Linked DNA regions of Homo sapiens: region 2 is linked to region 1. The links come from fine-mapping of genetic effects on gene expression. Tissue or cell type: whole blood. Region 1 holds a variant in brackets; the other region holds the start of a gene. All regions are shown on one strand. Distances are from middle to middle. Region 1 overlaps MYO5A (myosin VA). Region 2 holds the start of MYO5A (myosin VA).

The links. PIP is the estimated chance that this variant, and not a neighbour inherited with it, causes the effect.
Region 2: it holds the start of MYO5A, and the variant in region 1 is the best candidate, but not a certain one, in a credible set for the expression of MYO5A in whole blood (INTERVAL, PIP 0.63).

Annotation. Positions count from the first base shown.
Region 1 is chr15:52,415,648-52,420,043 of GRCh38, reverse strand. It overlaps MYO5A (myosin VA), which reads left to right. Exons shown (of 42, transcript NM_001382347.1): 5 at 3,743-3,899. Among named protein-coding and RNA genes, the nearest start is that of MYO5A, 110 kb to the left of the region's middle. The variant G/C (reference allele first, on the strand shown) is at 2,396.
Region 2 is chr15:52,526,225-52,530,542 of GRCh38, reverse strand. MYO5A (myosin VA) reads left to right here and starts at 1,663. Exons shown (of 42, transcript NM_001382347.1): 1 at 1,663-1,763. The coding sequence starts at 1,737. RefSeq lists a silencer at 1,134-2,013.

The sequences.
Region 1 (4,396 bases):
GTGAGCCACCATGCCTGGCCTAGTCACATTTTAAAGTCTCACCTCTCAACGCTGTTGTATTGAGGATTCAGTTTGCAACATATGAACTTTGAGGAACACATTCAAACCATAACATTAAACTGCTAGTTTGGGACTTACTGAATATTATCTACCCCAGAAGGTTGCAGCAGGAATAAAATACAGTATATATTAGAGAACTAGAGTATGTAAAAGTTATAAACAAATATAGTTGGCTATTTCTGCTCTAGCATCTTTATATAATGCATAGGCTCTGTACTGATGGAACAGAAAACTCAGGTTGATTTGAGAGGATCTGATAGCCATGTGACAGGCTTCTCACCAGGAACTGAGTGACCTCAGCAAGTATCTCTAGGAAACACTTGTTTTCATTTCCTGAGAAGTCTGTCTGCCTCTCTAAAGCGTTCAACAGTGCCAGCAACCATTTTTATAGTAAATATTTATGCTTCAAAAATAAAATTAATATTATAATTGTAAACTCATTGTCTAGTATTAACTTTAGGGTTTAAGCATTTTCTTATTGAGACTAATTAAAAGTAGGAATCAGAGAGACACAGAGAGCAGAGCAGCTTGATTTTGATGAGTGATGATGTAGAAAAACTTAGCATCTCTCTAACAAGAGAGAGATTAAAGTCTCAGTGAAGCCACATCTTTAAGACACCACGGTAAAAACACAGTTTTGAAAGAAAGCATTTTATTACACTAACTTAATATTTTCTCTTTTTAACAAGGGATCGGATAAAGGGAGAAACAATTAGATTGGTTGCCTGCAAAAAAGTAAAGCTCTAGATTTTGTTTCACATGGCCATGTTTGTTTATAAGCTAAAAAGTTAGACCTAGGTGCAGGTGCATGTACACTTCATCAAGGTACATGACAACACTCAATGGGTGGTTATCAGAGAGTTAACATCAACATAGATGGGGATATTAAATCGTGTTATACATTACTCAGGTTTGAGGCAAGCATTGCTTAATTTCCTTGTTGATGACGTAGATGTAATTGAAAGTATGTTTATTAAGTTTACAGAGGACAAGTTGATGATCTTGGAAGATATGAATAGTGTTTGGTATGACCATGATAAACTAGAGAGATTACATATTTTAAAGGGTAAAATTCGAAAGGAAAATCTATAAAATAATACATTTCATACAAAATGAAAACTATAAGGAAAGACCCGACAGACCAAATAGATATAAGGTCACTGATGACCATAAGAGGAAAATAAAGGCTAACAGACACCCTCCCCCACCCCGGCTCTCTCTCTCTCTGTCTCTCTCTCTTTCTCTCTTTCTCTATCTCTCTCTTGCTCATCCTTGAATAATTGTTTCCTGGGGTTTCGAGTGCTTCTACATAATTTAACTCCATTTCCTTATTCTCACAGAACCTGGTTTTCTCCTAATGATCATATATATGAGTCAATTCTGGTATTACCCTCTCAATTCTGGTATTACCTTCTCTGGAAAGGCTTTCCTGACATCTCCTCCTCACATCTCCTACTGGTTCCATACCCTTCCTTTCTACTTTCATAGTATCTTAGATAGACCTTTTTTATAGCAGTTACTTCCAACTGCATTTTAATTGTGTCCTTTCTAGTCTCTCTCAATTGACTATGACCCTAGAGTCTTTTATTTCCATAAAGTGATTAGCACATTGTAGCTGCTTATTATGTGTTTGTTAAATGAACGAATGAAGCAGTATTTTTAAGAGGGCTTTTAGTTCACATTAGACCTTCTGGAAACAGGTCAGAAGAGCTCACCTCCACTCCAAAGCACCCAGTACCCAGCCTATTTAGGATTATTGTGGAGGCCCTTGAAAGGACTGGCCAAACCAGAAATCATAAATCTGTCATTACTCCATTTTCCAGCTAAGCTGAGTTATCTGCTCTTTCCAAACTTCTGATTCTGAGCCTTCATTTATGCTATCCCTTTTGCCTGGAATGTACCCTTCCTGACTTCTGTAGTCCTTGCTTGCTTTCTCTTACTCATTTTTGTAGACCTTGTTCAGCTGTCATCTCTAGGGAATCTTCCCTGATAACCTCTTCTTCCTCTTACGGCCCCATCACATGTATTACAGTCTTGAATTATTGGCCTGTCTTTCCTATTAGATGACTGTCTTAGTCCAGTTTCTGCTGCTATAACAGAATACCACAGACTGGGTGATTTATAAAGAGCAGAAGTTTATTTGACTCACTGTTCTGGAGGCTGAAAAGTCCAAGAGCACAGCGCTGGCATCTGGCAAAGGTCATTCAGTAGTAGGAGGGCACATGAGCATGTGAGGCAGAGAGGAAATCAGCTTAAACTCATCCTTTTATCAGGAGCCCACTCCCGTGATGACTAGCTCACTCCTGCATTCATGCCATTAATCCATTCCTGAGGG[G/C]AGGGGCCTCATGACCTAATCAGCTCTTAAAGGCCCCACCTCCCAATATCATCATGTTGGCAATTAAATTTCAACATGAATTTTGGAGAGAACATTCAAACCACAACATCCGTCAACCACATGAGGATACAGATCATGACTTATTTAACTTTTAGTTGAATGAAGCCAAGCCAGCAAATGGACTATTTCTTCTCTAGTGATGAGGATACTTTAATAGGAGCTAGAGTTTGTGGGAGATGCCATTTTGAGGATTGTTAGCTGGTAATTTAAAATATTTTAAATGGTTTTGTAACTTTAAACAAATTAAATTTCTTTGTAAATTTAAATTTCTTTGCTGTGGCTTCAAAGAGTATCTCCTGAAGTGGTTGACAACAGTACTGTAAGATATTGAAGTAATTCTTTAGGAATAAAATAATATGTTTGAGATTTGTACACATAAGAATTCAGAGGCCCTCTATTGCAGATTCATCCTTAGTTGTGATGCTCTCTAATTTAATGCTTGATATCTTCTTCCTCTGTGTTATTTTTTAATTTATAAGTAGATATTATTTTTAGGAAATATCATTCTTATGTTCCTTTCCACACTGTTGCATGTATGAACCAGCAAAAACTCACTGTGCCTTATCACGAAGAACACAGAAGAAATAATGTTAATCACATTGCCAAGTGGGCAGTGGAACAGGAATTAAAAGAAATTAAAGAATGTGTAAGCAGAAACTCAGTTGTATGTAAGAAAATCCATTTCCCCCTGAGAAAGAGAAAGAGCTGGAGTCCTTTAAAAATTAACTGCCTGTTTTTCTTTGGCTAGTGAGCCTTATCTCTCCTCCTTTCCCAGGCATTGTGAAGACCCTGTTTCTCTAGCTGTGCAGCTGCAAAGTCACTAGACAGATAAACCCAAGTCATAAAACATGTTTTTTCTTGAAAAGAAATGATGTAATGCATGTCTCAATTAATTGAATAACTGTCTTTGTTTCTTACTTCTGTAATATGCTTCCCCCTGCACAGATCTCCCCCACACCCCATGAAATGTTTAAAAGGTAACTTAACGCTTTGTTCAGGGCTTGGTCCTTTGGATGTTAATCTGACTGGGCTGGTGCACCTAAATAATAAATATCCTCCTCAACCCCATCGGTCTCTCTGATTCCTTAAAAAAAATATATATATATCCTGCAACATTTCTGGTGGCCAGTATAGGGATTGAACCTGAGACCTTGGTGTTATAAGCACCAGTATCGACCAAAAAATCCATTAATTAGCCCCCTACTTCCATAGAGACCATAGTTTCCCTTATCAATCCTGCTATAGGCAGCAATGGCAGTTACTTTTTAAAAAATTTTTATTTTACAGAGATGAACGAAATCAGTCCATCATCGTAAGTGGAGAGTCTGGGGCAGGAAAAACAGTCTCAGCTAAGTATGCCATGCGATACTTTGCAACTGTGAGTGGTTCTGCCAGTGAGGCCAATGTGGAGGAAAAGGTCTTGGCCTCCAACCCCATCATGGAGGTAAGACAGCGAGTCTTCGGCTTTCTTCCTATATTCTCTTGATAAGAAACATGCTCAAAAAATTGATTGATACAGCATGTCTCAGAAAGCCTGGGGTCTCCAGCCACTAAAATTAAGAAAATGCTTTTCTACATGTTTATAAAAAATCTAGGGAAAGTAAAAACTTGGTAAGGTAGACATTTTTAGTAAAGCCCAGCTATAGCGGAATCTGTTTTAGTCTATAATCCTGAATTTTTGACCTACCAGCAAAATTGTTGCCCCTAAATACCAGGCAGCAATTAAGTTTCCTTCTCCTCATTAACTGACTCATGTCTATTGTTCCTTTCCTTGTACCAGAAGTACAAGTTACTCATTTCCCCCAAGTCCTGAGTTCTTATTTATGCTCCTTCTAAAACATAAGATTTGTTATGCTCAAGTATGAATGAGTTTCCTTATTCCTTTGCCCATATTTCATTTTCTGTACTTAGTCCGACCTCAGTTGGCTTAAATTTTAATAT
Region 2 (4,318 bases), 110 kb before region 1:
CTCCTAAATCTCAGTCCAGTGCTCCTTCCGTTCCGCTGGTCGTCACTGCACACGTTTTCTCTTTTTATGTCTGGGTGAAGAAAGAGTGGGTCCCAGAAACATGAAAGCGATTTGGTTTTGCAATGGGAAGGAACAGAGACAAATCTGTAGGACTTTCGACTCAGTAGACATTCCCTCTAGCATTTCTGAGGGGATTGTGGGCGAAGAGGAGAGGTCTGAGTTCCACGGAGTAAGGACTGGCCCCGTTCCTTTCAGTGAATGGTCTTTCTCCAAATACACACGCACACAACACACACAACCGGGGGCCTCAGCCATGAGAGTTGTTCGTGATAGAAATGGTCTACCAGATTACCATGACAGGCACTGGGGACCAGTTGTAGTTCAAAGAAACGAGAGATGAGGGCACTACAAAGAGGCAGGGATTAAACAAACAAAAACAGCAACAACAACAACGACAACAATAAAGAATGAAGATTATTCAACCAGAAACGACAATGAGGGTGGGGAGAAGATAGAGGATGAAGACAGCGCAGGGTTGGGAGTAGAAAGACCACATTCTTGTGCTGGATGTTCAAGGATCACCGTGAGGAGAGTGAGGGCGGCTTTGCCCTTTTGATGTTGAGTTAAACTGTAATACAGATTTTCCATGTAAGTACTCCGTCATTTTCAGGTGGCAACCGGATAAACTTCAGGTGCCACCATGGAGCCGACAATCACCAGCAGCGAACAGGACGGGAAGAAGGCTGGGACAGAAGGGTAGTTGCATCTCCGCAAACGCACAGGTCTAGGAAAGAGGCACCTGGGCTGTCCCCGGGCTATCTCGTTTCAAAGTCACTTAAGTTTCTGTAGCTTAGAAGCGGCCCTTGCCCTCTGGTATCGGGAGACGACTTTGCTGCAGACATCGAGGTGCTCGGAATGACCTTGGTGATCAACCTTAACCTGAAATTCCCGGTCCTGCATTGCCCATCTCCCGGGTCACTGCTGCTGACAAGGCTCTTCTACAGTCCTGGGTTATTCTACAGTCTTTCAAGAGGGCTTCCCCTAAATCCTCTCCCTAGGAATGCTTGGAAGGACGGGAGGAGCAGCCTGGAGGCTCCCATCGTTTATTCGGACACAGTAACAGCCCGTGCCATGGCTGCGCTACCGCGGGAGCTAGGCTCCGCAGCAGAGGGCCCCGGGCTCGCTTCGGGGTGGGGGCGCCCGGGGTGTGCCGCGCCCTCGGGGCTCACGTCCCGGGCGGGTTTCCGGGCCTCGGCAGGGCGCGAGGCGGCGGCGGGGCCGGCTGGCAGGCTGATGATGATGATGCTCTGTGCTCGTAGCCGATGGGAGGCAGCGTGAGCCCGAGAGAGCCCAGAGCAGCCGCGGTGGCAGCGCTGGAGCGCAGCCTCCTCCCGCTCCCATAATGCACAGGGCGGCGGCGGTGGCGGCGGCGGCAGCGGAGGCAGCATCGCGGGCCGCCGAAGTGGCTGCGGCGGCGGCGGCGACCCCTAGGACCCCGGGCAGGTGGAGCGCTCGCGGCTGCTCGCGGCGAGCCCGGGAGTGATGGCGAGGCCCCTGCGGGCGGCCAGCGCCTGAGGCGCCCCGCCCCGCCCCGCCCCGCGCGGCCCTCCCCGCCCGGCCCTGCCCTGCCCTGCTCCCTGCCGGCGGCTGCGGGCGCTTCCTAGTCCGCTCGGGCGGCCGCCCAGGCGAGGTGCGGCCTCCGCACAGGCGGGGGGCGTAGGCGCGCGGGGCCCGCCATGGCTGCGTCGGAGCTCTACACAAAGGTAAGGCACCCCGCGGCCGGCGTCGAGGACTGGGGCTGTGCGGCCCTCGCCGCCAGCTGTCAGGCTGGGGAGGGGGCGGGAGCGCCGGGCCCAGGCGAGCCCCACCAGCGCCATCCCCTTCAGCGCCTCAGAACCCTCGGCCCTACCAGCCGGTCGCCCGCTGCGGCACCTTCCTCTTTCGGGCGAGATGGTGAAGGCGGCGGAAGGTGGCCCGCCTCGGGGGTCTCCCAGGCCCCTGCCGCGCTGCTCGAGCTGGGGGCAGAGCGGGCTTCGGAGTGGAAAGGGGGCCCATGTGGATTTAGCAGGGCGGGCGTGCCTCCCCTCCTGCTTGGCTTTGGAAAATTCCCGGCGGGTGGGAGATGCTTGCTCCAGTAGATCGGATGGGTTCTCTCGTGGGGACACGCGCTTAAAATAACGTCTTGTGTTGGTATGCAGTGCCGCTTCTACCGCCAGCTAGCCTTTCTGTGAGGTTATTTTGAATCCTGCAAACGGTGGCCGTATCACCTTTAGCTCCCCAGTTTAGCTGCGCTGGGGGTGGCGAGCCCCGGGGAAAGATGCTGCCGGATGAACGCGAGCTGATTCACCGGCTGGGAGGGTCGGTACTCATTTATCGCTGGGAGTTTGCAACCTGCGTGTAATCCCGCAGAGCCTTGTTAGGCTCCATGTCTTTACCATCCTCTGGGGCAAGCCTTTCCCTTCTGGGTTTGGTTTAAGGGAAGTGGCAGTCTTTTCTTAGACTGACATCAATATACTCAGGGTCTGGCGATCTCTGAATGACATATTATGGAGAACTGTCACTTGAGTGCTGCGCAGATTTGTGATGACCTTTGTGAATATATGTAATCATGGCATTTTATACTGTACACTCATGTGTAGGTAGATATTTTGCCAGATATTGATTACTTCTACATGCAGTTAATAGAGTTGCCTTTTCACATTAGCTTTTGCAACAGAACTTTCATTTAGGGTCCTGTAATCACTGGAATCATTGTTTCCAAATGTCACTGAAGTCCAGGGCCCAAGTTGCAGTGTGTTTTGTAGAGGAAAGAAGACTGGGCATCAAGAGACCTGGATTCAAGCCGGGACTTACTAACTGTGACCTTGGACAAGTCACTTAACATCTCTGGTTCGATTTCCTAATGAGTAAATGCAGTTAATTATACTTGCCTTGCATCCCTTACAAGCTGTTGTGAGAATCAAACTTAATAATCGTTGTGAAAGCTTTTTGTAACCTATGAATTTCTCTGCAAATATGAGATATATGATTAATTTCTTCAACCATGAAATGAGCTTGCATGAAACATTGTCTGAGACCTCTTTCTTTCTAGTTTTAGATTTAACGACTGTACAGTTGGAACTTCTCTCTCAACCTGGTAATTTCTTTAGGCATTGTAGATCTCTAACATATGAACGAATGCAATTGGAAACTGATTAAAAGTAACTTAAACACTTAATATGGTGCTTGCTATGTGCCAGGTACTGTTTTAAGCGTTTTAAAAATATGAACTCATAATCCTCATAAGGAACTTATGAGGTCGATATTAAGAAATATCAAAATCATTTTCACATGAAGAGATAATCAGTCTGTAAACATTCCTTGGTTACTTTGTGTAGCCCATCCCCTCCACTTCTACATCAAGTTTGTCCAACCCGCAGCCCATGGGCCGCATGTGGGCCCAGGACGGCTTTGAATGTGCCCCAACACAAATTCATAAACTTTCTTAAAACATGGGTTGTTGTGTTTTTTTTGCAATTTTTTTTTTAGCTCATCATTTATCATTAGTGTATTTTATGTGTGGCCAAAGAAAATTCTTCTTCCAGTGTGGCCCAGGGAAGCCAAAAGATTGGACACCCTCCGTTCTATATGGTGAGCAGTCATCTTTGAGTCACCTAATAGTAGGCTGCTTAACTAGAGACTGAGTGGATAATAAATTGTTGTTGGATTTCGAATGCTTTTTTCCCCCAGGATAATTTGGGAGAAAAAATTGAAAAGATGTTGTGATTTGTAAATGGTAAAGTTTTGGGCTTCTGTCACAGCTTTATCACAATCTATTTTAAAATTTACCTTTTAACAGCCTGAGGAACATAATGAGACCTGGTCTCTACAAAAAAATTAAAAAGTTAGGCTGGGCACGGTAGCTCACGCCTGTAATCCCAACACGTTGCCGAGGTGGGTGAATCACCTGAGGTCAGGAGTTCGAGACCATCTTGACCAACATGGCAAAACCCCGTCTCTACTAAAAATAGAAAATTAGCTGGGCGTGGTGGCGCATGCCTGTAATCCCAGCTACTCAGGAGGCTGAGGCAGGAGAATCACTTGAACCTGGAAGGCGGAGGTTGCAGTGAACCAAGATCGCGAGCCTGGGCAACAAGAGCGAAACTCTGTCTCAAAAAATAAATAAATAAATAAATAAAAATTAGCTGGGCGAGTTAGTCACGCCTGCGGTCCCAGCTACTCGAGAGCTGAGGCAGGATGATCAGCTGAGGCAGGAAGATTGCTTGAGCCTGGGAGGTTGAGGCTGCAGTGAGCCATGACTGTGCCACTGCACTCCATC